5 separate regions of the Homo sapiens genome follow, and regions 1, 3, 4 and 5 are each linked to region 2. The links come from fine-mapping of genetic effects on gene expression. A gene starts in region 2. Each other region holds a variant in brackets. All regions are shown on one strand. Distances are from middle to middle.

Region 1 (5,106 bases), 140 kb before region 2:
CTGTGTCCTTAAAACTCAAGGTTTAGTTTCAGTTGGATAAAGTCTGAAGTGGTCAAGCTGGTAGAAAAGGAAAAGGCCTGTAGAACATCAGCTCCCAGCTATTACCTAGAAATTTTTCATCTCACAAGGGATTATCTATGTCTATATAAAACCTGTGCTCTTTTGCATCCATCTGGGAAAGACTTTAAGGGAAAATATCCTAGGCAGCAAATTTCTAGAACTTCCACTAAGGGCAGAAACATTTCAAGAAACAGGTCCTGCAAGTTAAGTGTATGCTAGGAGCCAAAAGAACCAACTCAATAATCTTCACCATTCCAAACTCTGCCCTGTTTCCACTCCCCTTTCCTGCTGGTTATACAATCATGGGATGAAGGGTGCATGCTGGAAATGCTGGACAGTGGGCTGTCATTAAGAAGCAGTATTTAATGGCATCTGTCCCAAAGGGAACACAGGGTCTTTTATGAAAGCTTCTCACCAGAATCAAGGCAGAGCTGGAACTGGCGTCATATTCTCCCCCTTTGGTATTACATCCAAAGCAAGCTCTCATTGTTCTCTTGTCAGTTTTATTTCAAATATGAGGGCAGCATGGTGACTCTGCCCTAAGCTGCAGTTCACTTTTTAGCATTCTTAACGTGAGACATAGTTTAAACGTTCATGGACCTAATGAAATTGTATACAGAATTTTATCTGTGTGTTCCTTTGTCTGAGAGAAGACATACTTTTCATCATATTTTCAAAGAAGTCAACAACTCTCTTGCCAAATTGGGAATAACCAAATTATAAATAAACTCTTTTTGGTTGCCAGGTTCTTTACTATAATATTTGGAGAGTGGCTTGGGGAAAAGGTCTGAAGTCTGAACTGATAAAATCTTTTCTCGTTAACCTAAAAGAGACGTGTTCTTGGGCCTGAAATTTATCTCACAGTTTAAAACATGAGATCTTAGGATACTGGCATATCATTTATTGATTACTTCATTTGCTAAATATTTGTTGACTGTCAACCATGTGTAAGTCATGATGCTAGAAACAAAAATGAATAAGATGAACACGGGAGTTGCCCTCTAGGACTTTAAAGCCTAGTAGGTGAGATACAGGCTCAGGGGAGGGAGGAAGAACCTTTTTTTTTTTTTTTTCTTCCCAGAACAGTACCTTCAAAGAAAGCATCTTATTTTTATAATAACCCACTTCTCACAATAATGAAAAAGAAAAGGGATCATAACTGAATCTATAACACAGAGCTTTGCTCAGCTTGTATGTCGTCTCTCCTGGAGGGTTCAACAATATAATTAGTGTGAGGCATCATCTCCTCTCCTGAATGTTCTTGCTTCACTTTGTATATAAACTTTGTATATAAGCTCATCTATGTTCATGAGGTTATCTCATTTTATTTATTTATATTTGAGATGGAGTCTTGCTCTATCACCCAGGCTGGAGTGCATCAGTGCGATCTTCGCTCACTGTAATCTCCGCCTCCCGGGTTCAAGCGATTCTCCTGCCTCAGCCTCCTGAGTAGCTGGGATTACAGGTGCATGCCACCATGCCCAGCTAATTTTTGTATTTTTAGTAGAGCTGGAGTTTCACCACGTTGGCCTTGAACTCCTGACCTTGTGATTCCGCCTGCCCCAGTCTCCCAAAGTGCTGGATTACAGGCATGAGCCACCATGCCTGACTGTTCATGAGATTTTTATCTTAGTCTATAAAAGTCTTCACTTTCTGCAAGGGAAGTAATACAGCCTTCTACCTCAGCCACTTATCATGCTCCTCTGAAACACCTGCCAGTCACACTTAGACTTACAACTGGAGTGGGACTCAGAGGTTAATGGCTGTTTCATTTTTTTTTTTTTTTTTAAATAAACTAAGGGTGTTAGGCAGACAGCACGTTCTATAGCAGGTACTTACCAATGAGAGAGGCAGCATTACATAATTACTTTTGTGTCACCAGACTGAACTAGGTTCAAATGCCTGTTATTAACTAATAAACTGTGGGATCTTACGTAAGTCACTAACATCTCTGAATCTCAGTTTCCTCATCGAAATGCTATCTTCCAGGGTTACTGTGAAAGCTTTATGTATTTTATGCAATACAAATGATAAAAAATGTTACCCTTCTTCCTCAACCCACCTTCCTTCTTATCCTGAATAAAAACCTGCCTCCTCCTGCCTTTCCCTCAAATGTTCCTAGCTCTGGCAGCTGAAACATTACATTCCAGAACAAGTGTGTTCCTATCCCCAAATACCCTTCAAATATCTGGAGAGCAACAGTATCCTGCTTTGCTCACTTGGAGAGTTTTTTAAATGACAACCCAGACCTAATGAAATACAGGTACTAACTAGAAAGGCTGAGTATCACTCTGACCCTTCTAGGTGGCAGGTCTCAAGAAAAGTCATGCCTGCCAAACACTGGGGAGAACAAATACGGAGTGAAGTTTAGTTAACCGGCCTTAGCTCGGTCACTGATCTAGTTTGAGGGTACTGCTGTATCTAAAAGTGGTGGCCTTAAAACTGGGGTATGGATACCCTTGTGGTATGTAATTACTTTCCAGGAAGTATTTGGGCCTGGGTAGTTTTAAGAAAATTAATGTCCAAATCCTTAACTTCCATATATACTGCTTCCTAAAACTTACCTTCTCAGAAACATGCCTGTGCTCTGTAAGGTTCTTGTTTCAGCCACTCCCACTTTACAGATCACCATACTCCCACACTTCCGCAGAAATGCTACTCTCACTCACCCTTCTGAATCTTAGCATGTAACAATTTTAGAATGTCTCCCTTAGAGGAGTCCTATGAGAGAACCGCAAGCAATAGTAAAGGAGACAATCTCTTTTTTCATTCAGGCAGGAAACTCTTGGCAAGGCTGTGTGTTTTATCTATCTATCCATCGATCTAACACTTCAAATTCAAAAGTGAGGTGGTTATCATGAGGTGTGTGCTAATGTTTATTTGTATTGAAAAAAATGAAATCAGACTTAATCTGACAGAAAGCAAGTCTGATTTGGCTGGATGGTTTGACCACCAAAATTGGCTTTGC[C/T]AATTAGATTATATAGTGCACCTTTGCTTGTAAATTTAATAAGCTAAATTCACAGTGCCAAAGTTTTGACAAAAATATATATAAAAACTCATATAAACTACACAATATGTCAGTGAGCACACCCTTAGCAACGATTTACACTTGATACTATGATTTCAGGAATTAATTTAAAAACGGGCAAAAAGGCACATACTTTTAAAATTTCTTTTAGGGGATGTAAAACAAAAAAGTTTAGCTAAAGGAACTGGGAGCTCCTAAATTCTGACCAGGAGGATGGTGTGAAATTTAACACTTTCTTGGTTGTGGGTAGGGGATGGGGTGACAGAATGAGACTAAGGCATTCCAGTAAGCAGAATGCTGTATCCCTTCTCTGAGTTGGGCTTACTGTCTGATGTGGTGCCTGTGAAACTGAAATGTCAGAGGCATGCCATAAGCTCCACATTCAGACCCTAAACACCTGCTGATAAAATGATTATATTTTATCATAATCATTTTACAGTGTTTCACTGTGACCATTTTTTAGTTAGGCTGCATATATAGGCAGCTTAGCTTTTTGGCTTCTGTCCCCAGAGCTTTAGGGGCATAAAGGGGAAGTTAATAAATCAGGTAGCAGGCATTCTGACTTTGCAAGTTTAATAGTTTCTTTTCCTAAGCATATAGTACAACTTAATGTGACTTGGCATCACTCATGTCTTCTGAGTTCTTGGTTATCTATTAATTGATTATTGCTGTAAAAGGATTATTTAACTCAGGAGGATGGTGGAATTAAGAGGTATTGACAAGGAACGAAGGCTAGAGTCAGCTGAAATTCAAAAAGATAGATTTAATATTCTCCAAAAATTACACTGCCTGGGCATTGTACAAGGAGCCAATTGGGAAGTCTCACACTTTCAGTATCTGAGGAAGTGGTTGCCTAGTTGCAGTAAATATGCGATCAGCACTGCTGGGGAGACAGACTAAACACTCGGATCCAGGGACCTTTCTTTACTAGACAGAGCGAGTTGCCTTCTTTGTCCCCTCTGTCCCACACTCACCTGCCCCAACAGCCTGAGCTGAAAATAAGGAGGTTACTGTGCTTTAAGGGATCTGAACTTTACAAAATAAAGTAAAATGTCCTTGGTCTATTTTGGGCTAACTGAGAAAAACATGATGAAAATACCAGAGTTCTAGTCCTGGTTCTGCTGTGTGACTCTAGGACCCAGTATCCTTATCTGGGAAATTAGGATGCCTTGCATTTTAAGCAAAGTTTAGGAAAACTCCAAACCAGACAAAAACTAAGAAAGCTTCCCTCCAACATATAGACTTGCTGAGCTAATTAATTTGCTCTCATTCATACAGCTGTCTCTCTTTGCTTCCTGTGCCCCTCTCTATCCCATCACCACAATCTGAAGGATGGCCTAAATGTTCCAAGTCCTTTCACCTCTTTCTGGCTGGGCCCAAATACTGGGTTGATGCCCGGTACTGAGAGGTGAAGCCAGCTGGACCTCCTGGGTCGAGTGGGAAGTTGGAGAACTTTTCTGTGTCTAGCTAAAGGATTGTAAATGCACCAATCAGCATTCTGTAAAAACGCACCAATCAGTGCTCTGTGTCTAGCTAAAGGATTGTAAACACACCAATCAGCACTCTGTAAAAATGCACGAATCAGTGCTCTGTGTCTAGCTAAAGGACTGTAAGCACAACAATCAGCAGGATGTGGGTGGGGCCAAATAAGGGAATAAAAGCTGGCCACCTGAGCCAGCAGCAGCAACCCACTCGGGTCCCCTTCCACAGCATGGAAGCTTTGTTCTTTCGCTCTTCATAATAAATCTTGCTGCTCGCTCACTCTTTGGGTCTGTACCACCTTTAAGAGCTGTAACACTCGCCGTGAAGGTCCGTGGCTTCATTCCTGAAGTCAGCAAGACCACAAACCCACTGGAAGGAAGAAACTCCGGACACATCTGAACATCTGAAGGAACAAACTCTGGACACGCCACCTTTAAGAGCTGTAACACTCACCGCGAAGGTCCGCGGCTTCATTCTTGAAAGTCAGCGAGATCAAGAACCCACTGGAAGGAATAAATTCCAGACACAGTACTGCC
Region 2 (5,106 bases):
GGGAAAAGGCTTCAATATTGCTAGTAATGTTCTATTTCTTAATCTGGATGGAGACTACCTCAGTACTTGTTTTATAATTATTTGTTAGACTGTAAGTTTTTACACACTTTCTGAATGTGCATTTTACAATTATAAATAGGCACTAAAAAAGGGAAAACCTAATACAGAGGATCTTCACTCTCAAGGTATTTGTTATCCCAATGCCAGCTATTCCCTATTCAGGGAAGCAAAAGTCATCATAATATGACAATGTTCACTAATACAGATTACTTAATGAACTGATCACTCCACTCAAAATTTCCCCCTCCCTCCCCGATTAACACCAGCAGTTTCTCTCAATGATAGTAAACATCCACAATATGAATAAAAGGTGCATCGTCTGCAAATTCATTCATTCAACAAATATTTCCGAAGTGTCCACTGTTCTGGGGGACCAGTAAGGTCCACGACAGACAAAGATCCAGACAGAGGACATGGGAACTTCCACTCCCACCCCAATTTGGCCTCCATCTTCTTACCCTCCTTTTCTACTAAGTTTCAAACACGAAGAATCTAAAATGAACTCGGGGCACATATGAAGTTACTATTAAAACTATTTTGTTAGTCTTTTCAATGCAGACGTATCACTTGCTTGGATTCATGTGGCAAAATCCTATTTCCCATGTTTTCAAGTAGGCAAAAAGATTGCCTTATCAAGAGCCCTAGCACAAAGCACCAGTTTCAACAATAGTGATGCTGTGGAAATTGGCCTAAGTGGGGTCAAAACTCCCAAGAAATGCTTTACCTGGGATCCACAGACCAGAAACTTGCAATTTTCTAGAAATTGTATACTAGATTTTGTGTGTATTTTCTCAGGTCAGAGTCCAGAACTTTCATCAGATTCTCAAAAGAGTTCAACCAAAAACGGTGAATAAGAACTGCTCCCAAAAAGTTGGAAAGACTAGCTTCTTAGGGACACAGTGAAAGCGAATGTGGTCACAGCCAGGCCACCTGAGTTGAAACCCAGGTGTCCTGACCCCTAGGTTTATGCTCTGAAGGCCCAATACTTACTCTTAATTCTTCAAAGGCTTCGTCTAGGGTGGAGAGTTGGTGGCCCTGGTGAGCCCCAATGACTGGACACAGGACACAGATGAGCTGCCTATCTTCCTGGCAATAGGTACTCAAATCAAGCCCATGGTCCGGACACTTCCTCTTGGCCACTCTCTCTGCTTCCATTTCTATTTCTGGGTCAAATTCACTTTCTGCCTCAGTTTCTCCCTCCGCCTCGGATTCCCCTTCTTCTTGGTTGTCTTCTTCGGCCTCGCTTTCTTGCTCATCCTCCATTTCTTCCTCGCTGTCTTCTTCACTCTCCTCATCGCTCTCATCCTCACTCTCTTCCTCTGTCTCGCTCTCTTCCTCTGACTCGCTCTCTTCCTCCGACTCACTCTCTTCCCCTGCCTCGCTTTCTATCTCCCTCTCCTGCTCCACCTTGACCTCCGCTTCTTCCTTCCCCGCCCCCTCTCCGTCAGCTGGCGGGGTCCAGGCCTGGGAGCCGTGGACGTATTCGGCCAGATGGTGACTGAGGAACTTCTGCCTGTGCGCCTCGGCATGGCGGCGGCAGTAGCAGAAGCCGCATTCTCGGCACACTTCCTCGGCCCCCGGAGCCTCGTCGGGCTCGCACTCGTCACACGTGCCGTCGTGAGGCAGTTCCTCGAAGGCCGCGCCCACTCCAGAGGCCATGTGGGTGCTGTGACGCGGCCAAGGCCTCGGGGCCCCGGGGCTCGCCGCCTTCCTTCCGCGCGGCCTCACTTCCTCCTCCCGCCCCGGGTCCCTTCCTAGGGAGTCGCCTCCCGCCTGGACCGCGCCGCGTCTCGAAGCGGGACCTGGGGCCGCGGCAGCCCCTGCCCGGGCGCAGCAGCAAAGACCCTTTCCGCCGGCTCGGCCTGCTCCGCTCTGTCCCTGCGCTTCCTCTGCCGCGCAAGGCACTTCCGGCGCGGCCACCCGGCGCCCCCGTCGGCCCCCGCGTCGCGCCGCCCGCTCAGCCTCCCGCTACCAGGGAGAGATCGCGGCAGCCGCCGGCCCCCGCGCCGCCCCGGTTCCACTTTCCCTTTCCCCGTCAGGAGGCCTCCTTTTACTTCCTGAGTCATTTAAAGTGGCAATGACCCTTTTCTGCTTTTCCCGCGGGGCTCAGCTCCTCCGCTCCAAATCTCAGCGTGCCTTGGAGGAGGAGGAGGGAGAAGGAGGATGGAGGAAGTCTCTTACTCTCTCCAGAAGCAGGAATTGGGCTCCACCTCCCCCATTCCCTCCCTGGAAGTGTCAACTTGAGTTTTCACGGCCACTAGGCTGGTGTCCCTGTGCATTTCAGTCTCTCTTGTGCCAATTTGTCGCCGCCCGTCACAGTCCCCAGTGTTCTGCAAGGTGCCCGGACAGTGTTGTTTACCAGACTGAACCTGACCTCTTGGGATTTCCTGAGTGCGGAAGGGCTATGTTTGTTCTAGGCTAGGGGAATTGGAGTTAGGATGAGCAAACAAATATTTTCGATCCAAAGCAATACTGTGCTTTGTCTATTTGCATTGCTACCTCCTAGGATCTCAGAATTTCTGGGGTGGTAACCTCTGTGCGGTTTTCTGAGAGCTGCCTTCGGTTGGGCAGAGACGTCAGGTGAAGTGAGGTGGGGAGAGGCAGTATTTGTCGAGTGACAGGTCCAGGTTGCAGTCATTTTCCTTTATGTAAGGTGTCCCTCTAGATTCCCACTGGGCTCTAAGAGAAAAGAAGGGAACTGTTGTTTATAAAGCAGTACTGTAGTGCCAAGAACCCGGCTACATCTTTTTGTGGCTCTTTAAAAGCCGGTTTTGGAAGATCCTCTGCCCGATGGTCCCCAAATCCTGGTGCCACTACCTATCAGTTTTATGACCATGGACAAGTTAATTCATCATTCTGTTTTCCGCTTTTTAAAAAAGATGTTAAGTGAAAAGAACGGTAAATATCTACCTCATGGGGTAGTTTTGTGGATTAAATGTAACGATGCCTGCACTGTAGAGTATTCACTAAGCTTTCATTATTATTTTTGGCACAAATTATATTTAGTGCTCACAATGCCCCTTTGAAGGAACATATTTTACACACACAGGGCATTTTCGGCTGGCTGCTGGTAATGTAGGCAAGTCTCCACCTCTACCCCATATCCATGTCTCTCCATTCACAGAAGAGTTTTTGTTTTGCACTGTATTTGGGAGAGGGAAAATTACGTTTTTATCTAGTCAAGGGAGAGGCTGAGGTGTATTAAGAAGGATGAAAGGGGATGGAATGGTGTCTGTTTTACATTGATTCCCTTAGATGATTTTGAGTTAGAATTTCCAGATGCTTTCCTCAAACATACCAGGGGATGAGGTGGGGTAAAAAAACCTTTTTAATAGTTTTTAATGTCTCCATGGATAATGTATGCCTAATCTTTGTGCAGCTTTTGTTAGATATTTATTTTTTAGAAACCTTTCTTTTTAACCTCAGAACAATTCTATACAATGTTGAAAAAAATCAGGTTTATTTTGTTCCAATTCCATACACATTTCTGTTTTCCCCCAGCTCATTTCTCTGGAAATTATTTCTGTGTCTGCTTTTGAAACATGAATTGAAGCACCATTCTGAAAAAAAAAATTCAACAAATGTCAACTCAAACATCAACGTTAATATACCTAATGAGAAGTGTGCCTTGCTTGGTTATTTCTACTCCTGTCCTCCCCCAGGCTTAAAAGGAAACAACTTAGCCTTTACAAACATAACGTTCTCACATTTAGAAAGTCTTTTATTCAATGAAAATAATTTTTATTTTTTTTATTTATTTTTTTTTTTGGTGACAGGGTCTCTCTCTGTTGCCCAGGCAGGAGTGCAGTGGTTCAATCACAGTTCACTGCAGCCTCAGCCTCTTGGGCTCAAGCAGTCCTCCCAAGTGCCTCCCAAGTAGCTAGGACCACAGGCGTGAGCCACTAAGCCCCACTACTTGTTTTGGTATTTTTTGTAGAGACGGGGTCTCACTATGTTGCCCAGACTGGTCTTGAACTCCTGGACTCAAGTGATCCTCCCACCTCAGGCTCCCAAAGTGCTGGGATTATAGGTGTGAGCCACAGGCCTGGCCTTTTTAATATCTTAAAAGGACATTGTTGTATCCAGGGTATTTGATGAGGGGAGGGGGAGTCATGTCATCATTATTGTTATTACTGTTTCTTCTTAATGTTATCTGACAGAAAGTTAAAATATAATACTGTGCAGTTCAGTATCTGACACTTTACAATTCTTCTTGAGCACTCTGTGGAGAAAGGGTCTTAGAGGCAGACAGATTAAACTTTTTTTTTTTAAGATGGAGTCTTGCTCTTTTGCCCAGGCTGGAGTGCGTTGGCACGATCTTGGCTCACTGCAACCTCTGCGTCCCGGGTTCAAGCGATTCTCCTGCCTCAGCCTCCCAAGTAGCTAGGATTACAGGTGTGTGCCACCATGCCCGGCTACCTTTAGTATTTTTAGTAGAGATGGGGTTTTGCCATGTTGCCCAGGTTGCTCTCGAACTCCTAGACTCAAGTGATCCACCAGCCTCGACCTCTCAAAGTTCTGGGATTACAGGTATGAACCACCACACCTGGCCAGATTAAACTATTAAAAAGGGACTCCATAAATTTCTGGTGACAAGGTGTGGCAGACTCAATGAGGCAGATCTCTGTACCCCTCTGCAGAGAAATCCGAACCATCTGATTCCCCAGGAATTAGTATCTTTGGGAGTGTCCACAAATAGCACCCTTGTTATATTAACCTATTGCTACATAGAAAATGACATCAAAATGTAGCAGCTTAAAACAATAAACATTTATTATCTTACATAGTTTCTGTGAGCAAGGACTCTGGGAGTGACTTAGCTGAGTGGTTCTGACTTAGGGTCTTTCAAGAGATTTTGGTAAAGATGTTGGCTGTGCTATCGTCACTTGAAGGCTTACCTACAAGCATAGAATTTGCTTCCAAGATGGTTCATTCACATGGCTGTTGGCAAAAGGCCTCACCACTTTCTATAGGGCTGCTGGAATGTCTTCAAGACAGGGCAGTTGAATTCTCACAAAGCAAGTGATCCAAGAGAGGGCAAGATGG
Region 3 (5,106 bases), 48 kb before region 2:
AATCTATTGGTGCTGTGGTTCAATTAGGAGGTCTGGGGCTCCAGTAAGAAAGAGAAGGATAAGGTAAAGCTGCAGGGGAAGGGAGAAGAGGAGGTAGGGAGTGAAGAATCTCAGTAGCGTTTACTTTAAAGTGGGAATATATTTCCTAATGTGTTTCTTAAATAACTTTAAGTAAAGTTATTCCTAAAATAACTTCTTTATTTTTCTTATAGTTGGGCACCAAGCAGTTCTGCTAACTAGGGAGTCTGCTTCATAACAATAAACATACTTGCTTCAATGCATTGATTTCTTCTTTCTATTGGGAATATATGGACACACAACTACACACTCCCAAGGCAGATACATTTGCTTTGACTTGAACAGGCAACAGACCTATGCTGAACTACTGCCAGTTACTCTGCAGCCAGGCAAGTTCACTCACAGAGTGAGTGAGCCAACAAACCACACACCAAGGGATCCCAAAAGTGGAGACTGAACTCAATTTATTTGCAAGTCATTATCACTCAAACAGGTATCAATGGCCCTTTAAAACATGCAATTGGTGTCATTATTCCTAGGAAGTGTTAATTGATCAAAGCATAGAATTATTTATAAACAGGTGGCTTATTTTTCTCTACAAGGCTTGGAAGGTTTCTGGAACTTTGTGGGGAGGAAGGTGCCCTCACGTACCCTTGCCCTTCTGCTGGAAGTAAGGGTTATTCTCCGGACTGGAGGCTAACAGCAGCCACAATTTATAGGAGGCTGTACTCTGCACTTTTTTTGAAACAGGATCTCACTATGTTGCCCAGGCTGGAGTGCAGTGGTACAGCCATGGCTCACTGCAGCCTCGATCTCCTGGGGTCAAGAGATCCTCCCACCTCAGTCTCCCAAGTAGCTGGGACAATAGGCATGTGCCTCTATGCCTGGCTAATTTTTTTTTAATTTTTAGTAGAGATGGGGGGTCTCCTTAATGTACTCAACACTTTAAAAGGATTATCTCACTTATTTTCCCAACAACCTATGAAATATGTACTATTATTCCCTATTTTGGAACTGAAAAAAAAAAAAACAAAAAATCTGAGAAATGAAGAGATTAAGCACAGATTTGCCCAAGGTCAGATAGCATTGAGCTGATAGGGCAATTCCTGAACTTTTAATAATTGTAGTATACTGCCTCCTCCTGTCAGAGGCCAACATCAGGTTTTTAACCCTCATCCCTGTCAGGAAGAGAAAAGGAAAAAGAAAATTAATATTCACTGCTGACACTTCAAGTGAATGGTTGAAAAAACTGATTCAGGCAGTAATCTTGTTCTCTTTCAACAGTTTTATTGAGATATAATTCACATATTTTACAATTTACCCATTTAAAGTATACAATTTTGTGGTTTGTAGTATATTCCCAGAGTTGTGCAACTATCATTACCATTGGTTTTAAAACATTTTCATCACCCCCAAAAGAAACCCCATTGCTATTAGCAGTCACCCCACATTCCTCCACCTCCCTCAGTCCCATACAGTATTGAGTCTCTTTCTATCTCTATATATTTGCCTATTCTGAACATTTCATATAGATAGAATCATATATTTGGTCTTTTGTGAATAACTTCTGTCAGTAACTACTGATGGGGTTCAAGATATGCTATCCCAAAATATGACTGTAGGAGGCCAGAATATTCCATCCCAAAATACGCCTCTTTGGCAGAAGAATTGTTTTGAGCTGATTATTTGGAGAAACTGCAAATACAGGAGAAGTACTGAAAACAAGGGAAGTTACCCTTTTGTAAGAGAAATGTACATCTGTAAAGGAAATCTCCATTTGCAGGGTTGTCTCCCTCTCTATACCAGGAAGAGAAGGATGACTTCCAATCACTAGAAACTCTTTTATGTTATAAATGGAGAAGGCACCAACTTAAATCTGCATAATAAACTTTACCTTTGTTTACTATGCTTTTCCTGGGCATCTCCCCATAACTAGCCTTCCCTTCCATGGTATTCATGCCTGAACTCAAAGCTACCTCTTTGGGATTTACTTATCTTCCCTTAGGTATCACATGCACACACGAGGTATATATGTTAATAAACTTGTTTTTCTCTTGATAATCTGTCTTTGTTAAAAGGGTTTGTCTCAACTAAGAATGCTGAAGGGTAGACAGGAAAATTATTGTTCAGAATCCCAGTTTTCTAAATTGAGGTTCAACAATGGAACAGGATTCAAATGATAAAATTGTATCCATTTATAAGAGATAACCTTAGGTGAAAAAGGTAGGATACAAAGCTCTCTCTCT[A/C]TATATATATAAAGCAAACTAAATATGGCCTGAAAAGGACTCTGTAATTCTATATTTGAGTCCTTGTGGATGAACTGTAACCTAACTTAATAGACAAGATTGAAAACTTAATTTAGGAGTATGCGCCTGTAACAATCACTGAGTCTTCGCCAATCCCAGCAGCCATATTTCATCCAGTCACACACTGCTGAGGGTTCAAACTGTGTGCAAATAAGGCAACTGCTGAACTGTAATGAATCCAGCTGTTTCTGTACCTCACTTCCAATTTCTGTATGTCATTTTACTTTTTTTTGGTCTATAAATTTGTTCTGACCACAAGGCATCCCTGGAGTCTCTCTGAATCTGCTGTGATTCTGGGGGCTGCCCGATTCACAAATTGTTCATTTTTCAATTAGACTCCTTTAAATTTAATTCAGCTGACGTTTTTGTTTAAACAAATGGTGTCAGAAGTGGGGTCTGAAGTATAGCTTCTAACGACCCCCAGGAGTGCTGAGTGAACAAGTAAGGTGCCCACAGGATCCACTTGTGTCCTCTGATCTCTCAGAGTAGCTGGGGAGTGTAAGTTGTCTCTTGGATTTTGGAGCCCCACGGATTTGCATTTTGAGCTCTCCGAGTTTCTTTGAGCAAATTTCTGAACCAAACTGGGTTTGGAAGTCATGACGGAAACTGGGCTGGGTCCAGGAATGGATTTGGTCTGGTAATTAATTGGCTTGGATCCAGTTAGAGGCCTCTTACATCTGACTGGGTCAGAAAGAAACTGACAGCAAATGGTAATATTTTAGGGGTATAAAATTTAGCTCTTAAAGATTTGCAAGGATTTTTTTGTTTCATCCCTTTGTTTCATTTTTCTTGCCCACTTAGGTAGGAAAAATCATTGGCTAGGTTAATCAAGGGAATCTGAGAGCAAAGCCAATATTTTATGTAAAAATGGGATACATAACTTCTGAAAACCTGAGTTCCTTCTGGCTTATGCATTAGGCACAGGAGGCAGCAAAGTCTCACAGAAAATGACAAAATCTTACTAAAGGTAACTTACAGTAGAATGTTCTGAATAAACAACAATGCACTGAAGTGCATTTACAAATGAGAGCCTCCAAAAATTAAATCTGCTAATCTTTCAGCTTAGTTACTATCCCCATCCAAAGGAAATAAACTGCAGCACCAATTGGCTGACTTTGGATAAGTAATGGGGTACGTTTTACCTGAGTAAAGGAAGGGATTGGGGTAGAGGTCCTCCTCTCAGTAAAGTTCTTTTTTTTTGGGGGGGGGGCATGGCAACATCAGTGCATGTTTATTTATTTATTTTAATGTGTTTTCATTTTTTATTTATTTTTTATTATTATTATATTTTAAGTTTTAGGGTACATGTGCACAATGTGCAGGTTAGTTACAGTTGTATACATGTGCCATGCTGGTGTGCTGCACCCATTAACTAGTCATTTAGCATTAGGTATATCCCCTAATGCTCTCCCTCCCTCCTCCCCACACCCCACAACAGTCCCCAGAGTGTGATGTTCCCCTTCCTGCGTCCATGTGTTCTCATTGTTCAATTCCCACCTGTGAGTGAGAATATGCAGTGTTTGGTTTTTTGTTCTTACGATAGTTTACTGAGAATGATGATTTCCAATTTCATCCATGTCCCTACAAAGGACATGAACTCTTCATTTTTATGGCTGCATAGTATTCCATGGTGTATATGTGCCACATTTTCTTAATCCAGTCTATCATTGTTGGACATTTGGGTTGGTTCCAAGTCTTTGCTATTGTGAATAGTGCCACAATAAACATACATGTGCATGTGTCTTTATAGCAGCATGATTTATAATCCTTTGGGTACATACCCAGTAATGGGATGGCTGGGTCAAATGGTATTTCTAGTTCTAGATCCCTGAGGAATCGCCACACTCACTGACTTCCATAATGGTTGAACTAGTTTACAGTCCCACCAACACTGTAAAAGTGTTCCTATTTCTCCACATCCTCTCCAGCACCTGTTGTTTCCTGACTTTTTAAATGATCGCCATTCTAACTGGTGTGAGATGGTATCTCATTGTGGTTTTGATTTGCATTTCTCTGATGGCCAGTGATGATGAGCATTTTTTCATGTGTCTTTTGGCTGCATGAATGTCTTCTTTTGAGAAGTGTCTGTTCATATCCTTTGCCCACTTTTTGATGGGGTTGTATTTTTCTTGTAAATTTGCTTGAGTTCATTGTAGATTCTGGATATTAGCCCTTTGTCAGATGAGTAGGTTGCAAAAATTTTCTCCCATTTTGTAGGTTGCCTGTTCACTCTGATGGTAGTTTCTTTTGCTGTGCAGAAGCTCTTTAGTTTAATTAGATCCCATTTGTCAATTTTGGCTTTTGTTGCCATTGCTTTTGGTGTTTTAGACGTGAAGTCCTTGCCCATGCCTGTGTCTTGAATGGTATTGCCTGGGTTTTCTAGGATTTTTATGGTTTTAGGTCTAACATGTAAGTCTTTAATCCATCTTGAATTAATTTTTGTATAAGGTGTAAGGAAGGGATCCAGTTTCAGCTTTCTACATATGGCTAGCCAGTTTTCCCAGCACCATTTATTAAATAGGGAATCCTTTCCCCATCTCTTGTTTTTGTCAGGTTTGTCAAAGAACAGATAGTTGTAGATATGCGGCGTTATTTCTGAGGGCTCTTTTCTGTTCCAATGATCTATATCTCTGTTTTGGTACCAGTACCATGCTGTTTTGGTTACTGTAGCCTTGTAGTATAGTTTGAAGTCAGGTAGCATGACACCTCCAGCTTTTCCTTTTGGCTTACAATTGACTTGGTGATGCGGGCTCTTTTTTGGTTCCATATGAACTTTAAAGTA
Region 4 (5,106 bases), 130 kb before region 2:
GCTAAAGATGTTCCAAGGCCTTGGCAGACTCAAACTCCAGTCTGGGCACCAATTACTCGAAAACTTTCTCCTCGTTACAGGGGATCCCAATAGTCTCTTAGTTTATTTATTTATTTTTGAGACAGAGTCTCACTCTGTCGCACAGGCTGGAGTGCAGTGGCGTAATCTTGGCTCACTGCAACCTCCGCCTCTTGGGTTCAAGCGACTCTCCTGCCTCAGCCTCCTGAGTAGCTGGGATTACAGGCACACACCACCATGCCAGGCTAATTTTTGTATTTTTAGTAGCGACGGGTTTTCACCATGTTGGCCAGGCTGGTCTCGAACTCCTGACCTCAGGTGATCCGGCTGCCCCAGCCTCCCAAAGTGCTGGGATTACACGTGTGAGCCATTATGCCTGGCCCCAATAGTGTCTTTTTATTTGTTGTTTGTTTTTTAAAAAAGAAGCCGCACAGCTAGATTTCTTTTTTTTTTTTTCAGTTTTTATAACTGCAGCCGGTCATGACTCTCCTGTTGTAACCTGGCTGCAAAGTGGCCATTTCCCTCAGATTCTCATCTTGGTTCTTGTGGGCTCCAGCAAACAGTCATGTAAAAGGGCCTGCCACCAAAACCTGTTCCCCTGAACTTAGGACAGAATCTCGTTGGGTCAGATATTGGTTTCATTTTCAATCCTGCCTGTCCTGCAGTGAGAGGCACCAAGGTCTCACTCATTTAATTAGGTTACATAGAAATATCTTTCAAGGTTTGAGCTGATTTTCACTAGACCCTACCAAAGGATGAAATTTGAATTAAGTGCCATCAGGGAACCAGTGATGCAGGTGGTCTGACACATCACTGCTCTATCCTTGCAGCCTCCAGAGGTTCAGGGCTTCAGTGCACCTCAGCACCGTTATGTTGTAAAAGTCAGTCTTTGTCACTTGAGCTCTTTGGAGGCTGCATTTGTTTCTCATTCACTATTTTACCCCTAGTTTGGCAACATGCCTGGCACTGAAGACATTTGGCAGCTGGCATATGGCAGCTCTCATAACTTGCTTTGGCCCAGAAGGAGGGATTTCACTGGTGAGATAAGAGGCAGGGAAGGTAAACCTTCAAGGTAAAAACTACATCCAGCAGGAAAGCATACCTTTCTCTACGAGCACTAAGATCTGTCTACTTGAAGAATTCCTACAGGAGGTAGTATAATATGTTAGGATCATCCACTTTGGAATGAGACCAGGATTACTTACCATCCAAGCCCTTCAGCTCTGAGCTGTGTAACTTTGGCAAAGCTATTTAACATCTAGGCCTCAGTTTCCTCATCTGTGAAATGGGGAGTCATTCCTTCATTTGTGCTTTCAGTGAACAAGTATTTATTGAGTACCCACAGTATATAAGGCACTCAAATAGGTAAAATAGCAGTGAAAACGACTGACAAAGTCCTTGTTTTCATGGAGCTTAATTTCCAGTAAGTTGACAACAAACACGTAAATAATTTCAGATAGTGGATATGAAGAAAATAAACCAGGATGCTGGAATAGAGAATGATGAGAGAGAGTGTGTGTGTGTGTGTGTGTGTGTGTGTGTGTGTGTGTGTAGGGGCAACTCCTCAGGAAGGGATGGTATTAAGATCTACCTCTTAAGAGTTGATGCAAATATTAAATGAGATAATGGATATAATGTGTTCAGCCTGCTGCCTAATGAGTACTCAACTAAATTCAACTGTTTTTGTATCACTCCCCTCCTGAAGTCAGTGGCTATTCTTTCACCTCACAGTGACTGAGCCCCAAATACATGCCAGTGATGGAACACAGTGGTGTATCAGATATCTCTACCATTCAGGAGCTCACAGTATAGCAAAGAATGTAGCTATGAGCCATAAGAGAAGAAGTGCTAAATTCCACCTACAGAGTCAGAGAAGACTTTATCACTGAGTGTTGACAGATGGATTGGTATTTTCTAGGAAGACAACGGGGCAAGGAGCGGGGGGTATGCCAGGTGGAGGGAACAGCTTGAACAAACTCTTGAAGATGTGAAACAGCTTGGCATGTTCAAGGAGCTGTGAAAAGTTCAGAATGGCTGAGATAAAATGTGCGATGGTCCAGTGAGAGAACGTGTCTCATCAGCAGCTCCTAATGCTTATCTTTATGGGTCATGCTTGAAGTGTCTCCTAAGAAAATGTCAGGGCGGGGGGTGTAGATGGGAAAGAACAGGAGGTGAGAAGGGTGTCAGGGCTCCATATGGCATCTACCACATTGCCAGCACTTCAAAATGTGAACAAGGGCTATGCTTAAAATATACAGGCTGTGTTCTGTGTGACACTCCCTGAGGCAGCACAAGCAGATGTTTCAGGAAAAAAAGAAAAACAAACACCCAGTGGTAACTCAATATAAAGCCTACATGGGGGCCAGCAGGCATTAGGATGCTCAAATGTGATTACATCGTCAGCACAGATCTACAACTCAGCTTGGAAGAGTATTACAGGTGCCAATGTCATGATGCTGGGGGTCTGGAGCAAATGGACACTTGCTCCCAAGCAGAGGCTAGGGCTCCCTCTTTGTCAAAGCCAGACTCACTTGTCCAGGAGTCTAAAGTCTGGGCCAGGGACAGTGGGAGGGCTCTGAAATGGAAAAAACAAGAAACTATGAGGTGTCTTATGCCTAGTTAATAACTCAAGCATCTCTGCCAGCATGTCTTCTCAGATGAGTATAACTGAGAAGTGGACGTTTATGAAAGGGAATAGAGGGTCCCTGTTCTCCTACTGCCTTGTTCCTTCCCTGTTTACTACTACCCAGTTCTACCCCTGCCCTTTTAGTAAGTGTTCTTGTTATGAGTTTCCCTAGGAAACGGAAAAGAAGGTAAGAAAGCTATCCCCACCTGCATTCCAACCTCAATATTCCAAAAGCTCATGATACAGTCAACAGGTCTGAACTATATGAAATCTGCCCCTCCTGGGAGGAGGGTTGCT[T/G]GATGTAGACAGCAAAGAGATGAACACCACATCAATTTACTTTCAGCCAATCTTACCAGAGGCTCTCCTTGTACTGCAGTTCAGTGCTGTCAGATGAGAGACAGCACTAGTCTGGTCACCATTAGATGACCCAAAACACATAAAAACATCAAATAGAGCTGAAGCAGAGACAAGAGAGGAACTGAAGACTGCAGCTTTCCATCCTTTATATGTCACTACCCAATCTCAAGATTGAACAAAGTCCAGTGCTTTGAATTCAAAGGACTGCTCTATGTACTGGAGGAGGTAACAGATGCCAAACATGAGAGCATGTGAAAAACAGCAAGGCCTTTGCCACTTTCAAAAGATCTCCCATAAGCCATTAAGCCTAAAGTCCCTATTAAAATTGTTCCTGTAGTCTAAGGTGTTGCACTTAGAAGGTTCCTTACAGTTCAGCCCCTAGTTAAAAATCAGTATGTATTACAAGACAAGAGTATGCCATGGGACCACACCATAAACCACTTGAGTGCAGAAGAGTTTCTGGATGAGCCAGCTGTCATCTTACGATGAGGTTAAATTTTGCTGGGGGGAAGAGAAATGATAATCTTTAAAGGGTCAGGACTAGGGCATAAGTACCGGGCACTGAAAGAAGCAAATAAGGATTATTAAAGACACATTTTGCCCTCCTCCCAGTTTTTCCAGAAGCCGGCTCTTCTGTGGCACCCAAATGACATAATTCTACAACTTCAAACCTGTTTCATCTATATGAAGAAGAACCTGTTTATGGCTTAGAAATCAAGTGTCATAAGATGTATTCACGATAGATTTCAATAGAAATCTATCGTATTTACGATTGATTTCAATAGAAATCAAGTGTCATAAGATGTATTTACGATACCTGGAAAGCACTTGCTCACCATTGGCCCAATTGCAGGGCCCAGGCAGAAGGAACAGTGTAAATACCCTAAGGAGCACCAGGGGAATATGCCTCTTAGAACTGAGTAAGGCCCGGTCGCCCTCTAAGACGGCTTAACTGAGGGGCAACTGTCAGTAATTTGGATGACAAGGTTCCCTGCTGTCAGAACTCTCAACCTTGCCTTTTAGGCTAAGAGGAGCAGGAGTGCACAGCCAGAGAAATCAAGGCTGAATCCAGTTCTTCTACTTATTAACTGAGTACCCTCTGGGCAAAACTTATTCCACTGGGTCCCAGTTTCCTCACTTGTGAAAGAGGATCAATGATTCCCAGGTGCTTAATGAATGTAAAAACATATAGCACATGGTAAACTATTAAGTGATCACTTTTCTCATTAAACGCTGTATGAAGCACTACCCTACACATACTAAACTTTCATGACATATTGCTGTGTCCCCTTCTTCCTCCTTGGATTAGATGATTTCTAAGGCTCTCACATTCTCAGTCCCAATCAGACTCAAGTTTAATATAGAACAATAAATATATCAGATGGCTCTTCTACCCTAACATGAGAAGTTAGCATGAGGTGCATAGGTCTTTTACTTTCCCTAGCCACTCACCCACTCACTACTTAAAACATTCCACTGCAATCTTCACTCAGCCCAGCAGAGACAGGTAGGAGGAGGGGAATGACAATAAAATAAATATTTTTCAGTCAACCACTTTGGGGAAAAGATGAGAGAATTCTTTTGAGAGTTGTTTTCAAATTAAAAAATATTTGCTGTGAGACAATAAAGATACTCCTCTATAAAAAAACTATTTTTAGGGCCTCAGGCTGAAATATACACAAGAAAGAAAAAAGGAGTTAAAAAGAAGAGTGATAATTCTGTCTGTAAAAGTTTAAGCAAAGCCTGTGGAACAACTTAGTTTATGTTCAGCTGTAAAGAGAAAGCTTATGTCCTTCCCAAACTGCTTCTCCAGCCACCTCTCCTTAGTCTGATTTCTGATACAGCTCAGAGCCCTGGTGGGACTAAGGCCTCTGGTGGCTAATCACATGCCTCTTTTTGCCCACTGAAGAGGATGGAAAGACCAGGCTTTGGAAATAGAGCCATTAACTGTAGGGGTCCAGCAACCAACGCTGAGAACCACTGGTTTGTGTGAAAGGCAAGACGATCACTTAGTTCTTATTCATTTTAATTGGCATGAATGGTCACAACATGGCTGCAAGGGGCATTCTTGTTAGAGGCCAAAACCAGACTCTCAAATGAGGCCC
Region 5 (5,106 bases), 150 kb before region 2:
TAAAAGCTCCCAGAAATTCTACAGGGAAGAAACCTATTTAACTTTGTTTGGCCCACTGTTTTGCTTCCCAGTTTATTTGACTGTGGTACATTTTTTTTTTTCGTGGTGTATTAGTCCGTTCTTTCACTGCTATAAAGAAACACCTGAGACTGCATAATTCATAAAGAGGTTTAATTGGCTCACAGTTCTGCAGGCTGCACAGCAAGCATGATGCTGGCATCTGCTCAGCTTCTAGGGAGGCTTCAGGAAACTTACAATCATGGTGGAAGGCAAAGGGGGAGTGAGCACTTTACATGGCCAGAGCAGAAGGAAGGTGGGGGGAGGTGTCACATATTTTTAAACAACCAGATCTCACAAGAACTCACTATCATGACAACAAAGGGCGGATGTTGTTAAATCATGAGAAAACTCCCCCATGATCCAATCTTCCCACCAGGTCCCACCTCCAGCATTGGGGATTACATTTCAACATGAGATTTGGGTGGGGACACAGAGGCAAACCATATCACATGGCTTGTGCACATTTGGAGCAGTACTAGTCTCCATGAAGTCTACATATGGATTCAGCTTTCCTTGTATAGCTTCCACACACATGCATACACACCCACAGACACACACAAATGCTAACACACACGGAGAGAAAAAAGATGACTTGGGACTCTTAGAGGAACAATTTTTCTGTTATCACTGTCCTTTTTACTTTGCTAAGATCTTACCGTGTTAGAGGTGGAAGAGAAAAGAGAGATCCTCCAATGTCTCTGACCCTACCCGTCATTTTAGGCGCATGTAGAGAGAGAACATGATGTGCCAAATGCCACACAACTTGTCAGTGGCAGAGCAGGGATGGGAGTGAGGCTTCTCAACTCTCTTCCCTCTTTTCATGGGAAAAGAAGGTGCCTTTTGGTGGTGCCACCTGCTTTGGACACTCATTCTGGGGTAGATGTAGCTAAAGGTATCTTTCAGTTTTCTGCATGAAGATATAATATCTGGAGTACCTCTGGATATGGGCATTATCAAGATGTCAGTCAGTTTAAGTCCATAAATTTGAACATCTACTCTGTCAGGCGACTTTGTCATCATTAGTAATATAGGAGCAAACGACTAATACAACCTTCAAAGAGTTACAGACATCAACCTTATGAACAAGTAAATACATACGGTAATTTGAGGTACTTACCGTTGATATGAAAAAGTACATGGGGATGTGGTACAGAGGGCTATGAAACAGCCATGGGGAGCATCTAGAGGTGAGCAGAGCAGCTCAGTGAGGGGCAACATGAAGGTGGCTCCATCTACTGAATCTCTAACAGGACTCCAGCACAACAGTCAGAAGCTACCATTTCTAAGTGCTTACTATGTGTCAGGCACTGTACTAAGCCCTGTAGACCATCTGCTCATTTAATTGTTCAGAGTTAGTAAAGAACAAAGCCAGTACTAAAACCAAGTCTGTATGCTTCTAAAACCTAGTATCAGGAGCAAGCTTGTCCCATTTTCCAAAGACAGAAGACGGCACATTGCTCTTTTTTGTGAAGATGCAACACTAGGGTCAAGTGGTTCACAATGTTAACAGTTTCCTCCCAACAATTTAGTCTAAATTTTACTTTTCACTCCATTCCATTACTCTTAGGTCTACCCTCTAGAGACCCTTCTGTTCCCCAATTACACACATAAAATCAATTACATTGTATTATCTGATGCCAGTTGTGTTTATACTGTAGAAGGCAGAAAAGTGTTTTTATGAGTGGAGATTGTTTTTCCATTCTGTTCCTTCCCAGGGGGGATCTAAATACTCTTTTTGAAGTTAGACATTGTGTGTGGTTTTGGAGCTGAGTTGGGAAGAGGATGGATACGCACCACACCTTATTTATTTTCTCTTCTGTGAAACAGTCTCAGCTGTTTTTTTTTCTCACAAATTCAATTTCTTACTCTTGAAGAATGACCCAAGCTGAGAAATTTCCCAAACATCTGAAATCTGAGAATTTGTGCCTGGAATCCATGAGGCTCATGGTTTCCAGATGGAAAGGCCGGAAGAATAGGAGGCGGAGGAGTAGAGGCAGGGTGGAGTGATAAAAGGGAGGGGGAGCCTGAACTTTGGATCACTTCTGACTGCCTTGTGAACTAGGCCAGGTCCCTTATTTGCTCTGCAAGTCTGCCATTTGACAATGGGCCAGGTCTGAAGATAGACAGCAGTTTTGCATGTCCTCATGAGGCTGTTTCAGTGATTATTAGAAGTAAGTCATTGTAAAATTGTCTTTTTCTGAAGGCAGTGACTGAAAGCAAACAAGCCCATGACTTGGCTATTCAGAGGGGCATAAACACTCCAGATGGATTTTCTCATTGTCCCAGAAATGGCAAAAGACAGACCATTCTAGGAATCCTGGCTTCTTTATACCACTTAAACATATGCAATGGCAGATGCCCCGGTGACCTAATTCTTCCACGTCTTGTCCTCATAATAGAGGTAAGAGAAAGAGATTAACAGGAAAGCTTGTTTTGAGTACATAACAGTCAAGTATAATTTGGCCACAAGTGGGCTAGGTATACTCTCAGAGGAATGCCTTTATTTGATCAGACAGGTC[A/G]GAATCTTCCAGGGAAAATATTAATTTGGGGAAAATAGATCAGAACCTACTTGTTATCAAATGGGAAATTGGCTTGAGTGTTGAGAAATACCCATTTTTATTGTTATCAGTGGTTTGTCATCCTCCCCACCTGAAACTACCCTACTGACACTCCCTATTGCCCTACTATCACCAAGTCAAAGAGCAATCTTGTTCCTCTATCATAGTTCTTCCTACTTAGAAGCTGAATTTCATACTAGGATACAGCCATCCAACTGGGTCTAAAAGGTCTCATAATGTGTGGAGAGAAACCAAATATAGAAAAGTTACTTCCAATTAACACCTCTAATCTCCAGATGTCCTAATAAAAACAGTGAGGCAACAAATGGCCACCCTCAAGCCAGAGAACCATACTTGGACTCAAATGTTTTTAAGAGCCAGGGAAAGTAGCTAACCTCCTCTTAATTTGATCTCCTGGCCTGGGACATATAAATGTTTAACTACACTCTGGCTTAGGGAGGAAAGCAAGCAGAGGTGAATGTATCCTGTAGTGGCATGGCTTCAACAGAGCATTTGTCTCACCCTGAAATATGAAGGAGCAATGCCTGCCTCCTCAAGCTGAGCAGTGCCCAGAATTTATGAACTTCAAGTATGATGTGAATCTGGGGTCCGAGCCAGGCATTATCATTGGGAAGTGGTGGACAATTTCCCTCTCCCTCCCTCCTCGTTTTCCTACTGCTGATTGTACTGTTCAGAAGTGAATCATGATTTAATCCCCTCTGCTGTTAAGAGTATTACAAAATGCTGGTTACAATGAAGTCACAAAAGTATTTACATAAAAGAAAAAAGACGGACAGAGAATGTTATAGCAAGTGACAAAACTCATCATTACCACCAGCAAAAAGATAGGTATGGAAAAATCCTTGCCTGGGTACCAAATGGGATGCAGCTGATTTAGACCATCTCTATATATAATCAGCGTGGCACATGTTTTTACAGTCATGCAGTGTTGAAAGCAGTGCATCATGGGAGAAAAGATAGTTCTAGTCACATGCATCTGGGTTTTTAAATCTTAGCGTCATCAGATCAGGGCCAGGTTACCCCAGAGTGCTCAATAATCCATGAGAAATGAATCCTATCTTCGTTCCAGGGCTTAGTATTGGCATTACACCATTATTAGATGCAAGCAATTCTTTGATTGATGGCTCCAACATGGATTAAGGTCAAAAGTGGCCCTGGAGACCAAATTCCCTAGTGAGGAACTGCCACATAACTTCATGTGTCTTTTGCTTCTGAATTATTTCTTCTAGAAACCACCAACCACAAGCTGTCACGCTGGTATTATATCTACATAACGTTTATTCTTCTTACAGCAAAGAGCTGGAGAAATACAAGTGAGAACCTGTTATTACAGGTTAAATTGTGTAACACTCAACTTGCGCTGAGGTCCAGTTTCTTTTTATTATGCTCCAATTTTGTTGAATGACTATTGCCTAAAATAAATGGGCAATCGACAGGGGCTTAGAACTAACAGGGATGCTTAAGTGACTTTTATGGTAGCAGTATTTGTTGTAACAGAATTTGATCTGTATTCTAGTTATTAGTTTTATTCATCACATTGGAAAGTTGGCACCTCCACTGTTCATGCCATTATATGCAAAGCACTGTAGCATGAAAGTCACTTACAAAGCTGTGAAAAAAACTCTCTGAACACCAGAGGCTCATGAAACAATAAAAGTCAGCTAGGGGGATATACACTGTTTGATTTAGCTAAATATTCTGGATGGTCAAAGGTTTATTCCTTTTAATTCCTAAAAGTTTTTTTTTTTAACCATTGGGATGTAAATATTTCTAAAATGTTTGATATACATATTTTTGTCTTCTAAGCATAGTTTTTTTATGTATGGTGCACAGGGTCATCATTTTAAATAGAATATTGTCCCATGATACAGTGAGGCTCTTAAAGATTGAGATGTGTATAGACTGTTTTTGACACTAAATAACCCATATATCAGGGCTTTGGAGCTTTGCAGTCTACTCAAAATTTCCATTTTCTCTATTGCTGTCCTCCTTTTTCCTTCTTGTTTCCTCTAAAAGTCTGTTTCTTTCCTTTACAGTTAGAAATATGTGTGAAGGAAGAGCAAATAGGTTCTGAGGAGGTGCCTGATGACTAGATGTATGGCCTTTGTCTTATGCGTTTGCTTCATGGTATTTATTTCAATTGGTTGGAAGCCTTGTTTGCTTACTTCTTAATTCTCAGTCACTTTTGATGGGTTCAGCAGAGGTTCTAGATTTTTCTAGTTCTGTCTCAGTTACTCATTGTCAAACCACTGGTTTAGATTTTGTGTTCAGGAAATAGGGATAGGTAAAGCTATCAGGTGGCTAAGCCCTAGGTAAATGAGTTGCCATGAATCCTAAAATATTGTGAAGGTTGTGGGCCATTTTTATAAGGCAAATGGTATGCTGTGGCCGTGACAGCTGAACTCAGTAAGTGAACTTTAAAACAGATAAGCTCCTTTTGCTGTTGTCCCTTTCCAAGAATATGAAG

Direction of the effects. Positions count from the first base shown, and alleles are read on the strand shown. Sizes are in standard deviations (SD) of each study's normalised expression. Not every link is listed here.
With allele C in place of A in region 3, the expression in aorta of the gene that starts at base 2,056 in region 2 is lower (small effect, 0.21 SD a copy in GTEx).
As copies of A replace G in region 5, the expression in tibial artery of the gene that starts at base 2,056 in region 2 goes up (small effect, 0.18 SD a copy in GTEx).

The links. PIP is the estimated chance that this variant, and not a neighbour inherited with it, causes the effect.
Region 1: its variant is the best candidate, but not a certain one, in a credible set for the expression of TRIM44 in whole blood (INTERVAL, PIP 0.57).
Region 3: its variant is the best candidate, but not a certain one, in a credible set for the expression of TRIM44 in aorta (GTEx, PIP 0.73).
Region 4: its variant is the best candidate, but not a certain one, in a credible set for the expression of TRIM44 in whole blood (INTERVAL, PIP 0.58).
Region 5: its variant is the best candidate, but not a certain one, in a credible set for the expression of TRIM44 in tibial artery (GTEx, PIP 0.76).

Annotation. Positions count from the first base shown.
Region 1 is chr11:35,800,015-35,805,120 of GRCh38, reverse strand. The region is part of intron 4 of TRIM44 (tripartite motif containing 44); the gene reads right to left. Among named protein-coding and RNA genes, the nearest start is that of TRIM44, 140 kb to the right of the region's middle. The variant C/T (reference allele first, on the strand shown) is at 3,029.
Region 2 is chr11:35,659,725-35,664,830 of GRCh38, reverse strand. TRIM44 (tripartite motif containing 44) reads right to left here and starts at 2,056. Exons shown (of 5, transcript NM_017583.6): 1 at 1,051-2,056. The coding sequence starts at 1,719. RefSeq lists enhancers at 1,368-1,868, 2,080-2,399 and a silencer at 1,660-2,039.
Region 3 is chr11:35,707,411-35,712,516 of GRCh38, reverse strand. The region is part of intron 2 of TRIM44 (tripartite motif containing 44); the gene reads right to left. Among named protein-coding and RNA genes, the nearest start is that of TRIM44, 47 kb to the right of the region's middle. The variant A/C (reference allele first, on the strand shown) is at 2,265.
Region 4 is chr11:35,788,537-35,793,642 of GRCh38, reverse strand. The region is part of intron 4 of TRIM44 (tripartite motif containing 44); the gene reads right to left. Among named protein-coding and RNA genes, the nearest start is that of TRIM44, 130 kb to the right of the region's middle. The variant T/G (reference allele first, on the strand shown) is at 2,942.
Region 5 is chr11:35,813,056-35,818,161 of GRCh38, reverse strand. TRIM44 (tripartite motif containing 44) reads right to left here. Exons shown (of 5, transcript NM_017583.6): 5 at 155-5,106. Among named protein-coding and RNA genes, the nearest start is that of LDLRAD3, 130 kb to the left of the region's middle. The variant A/G (reference allele first, on the strand shown) is at 2,580.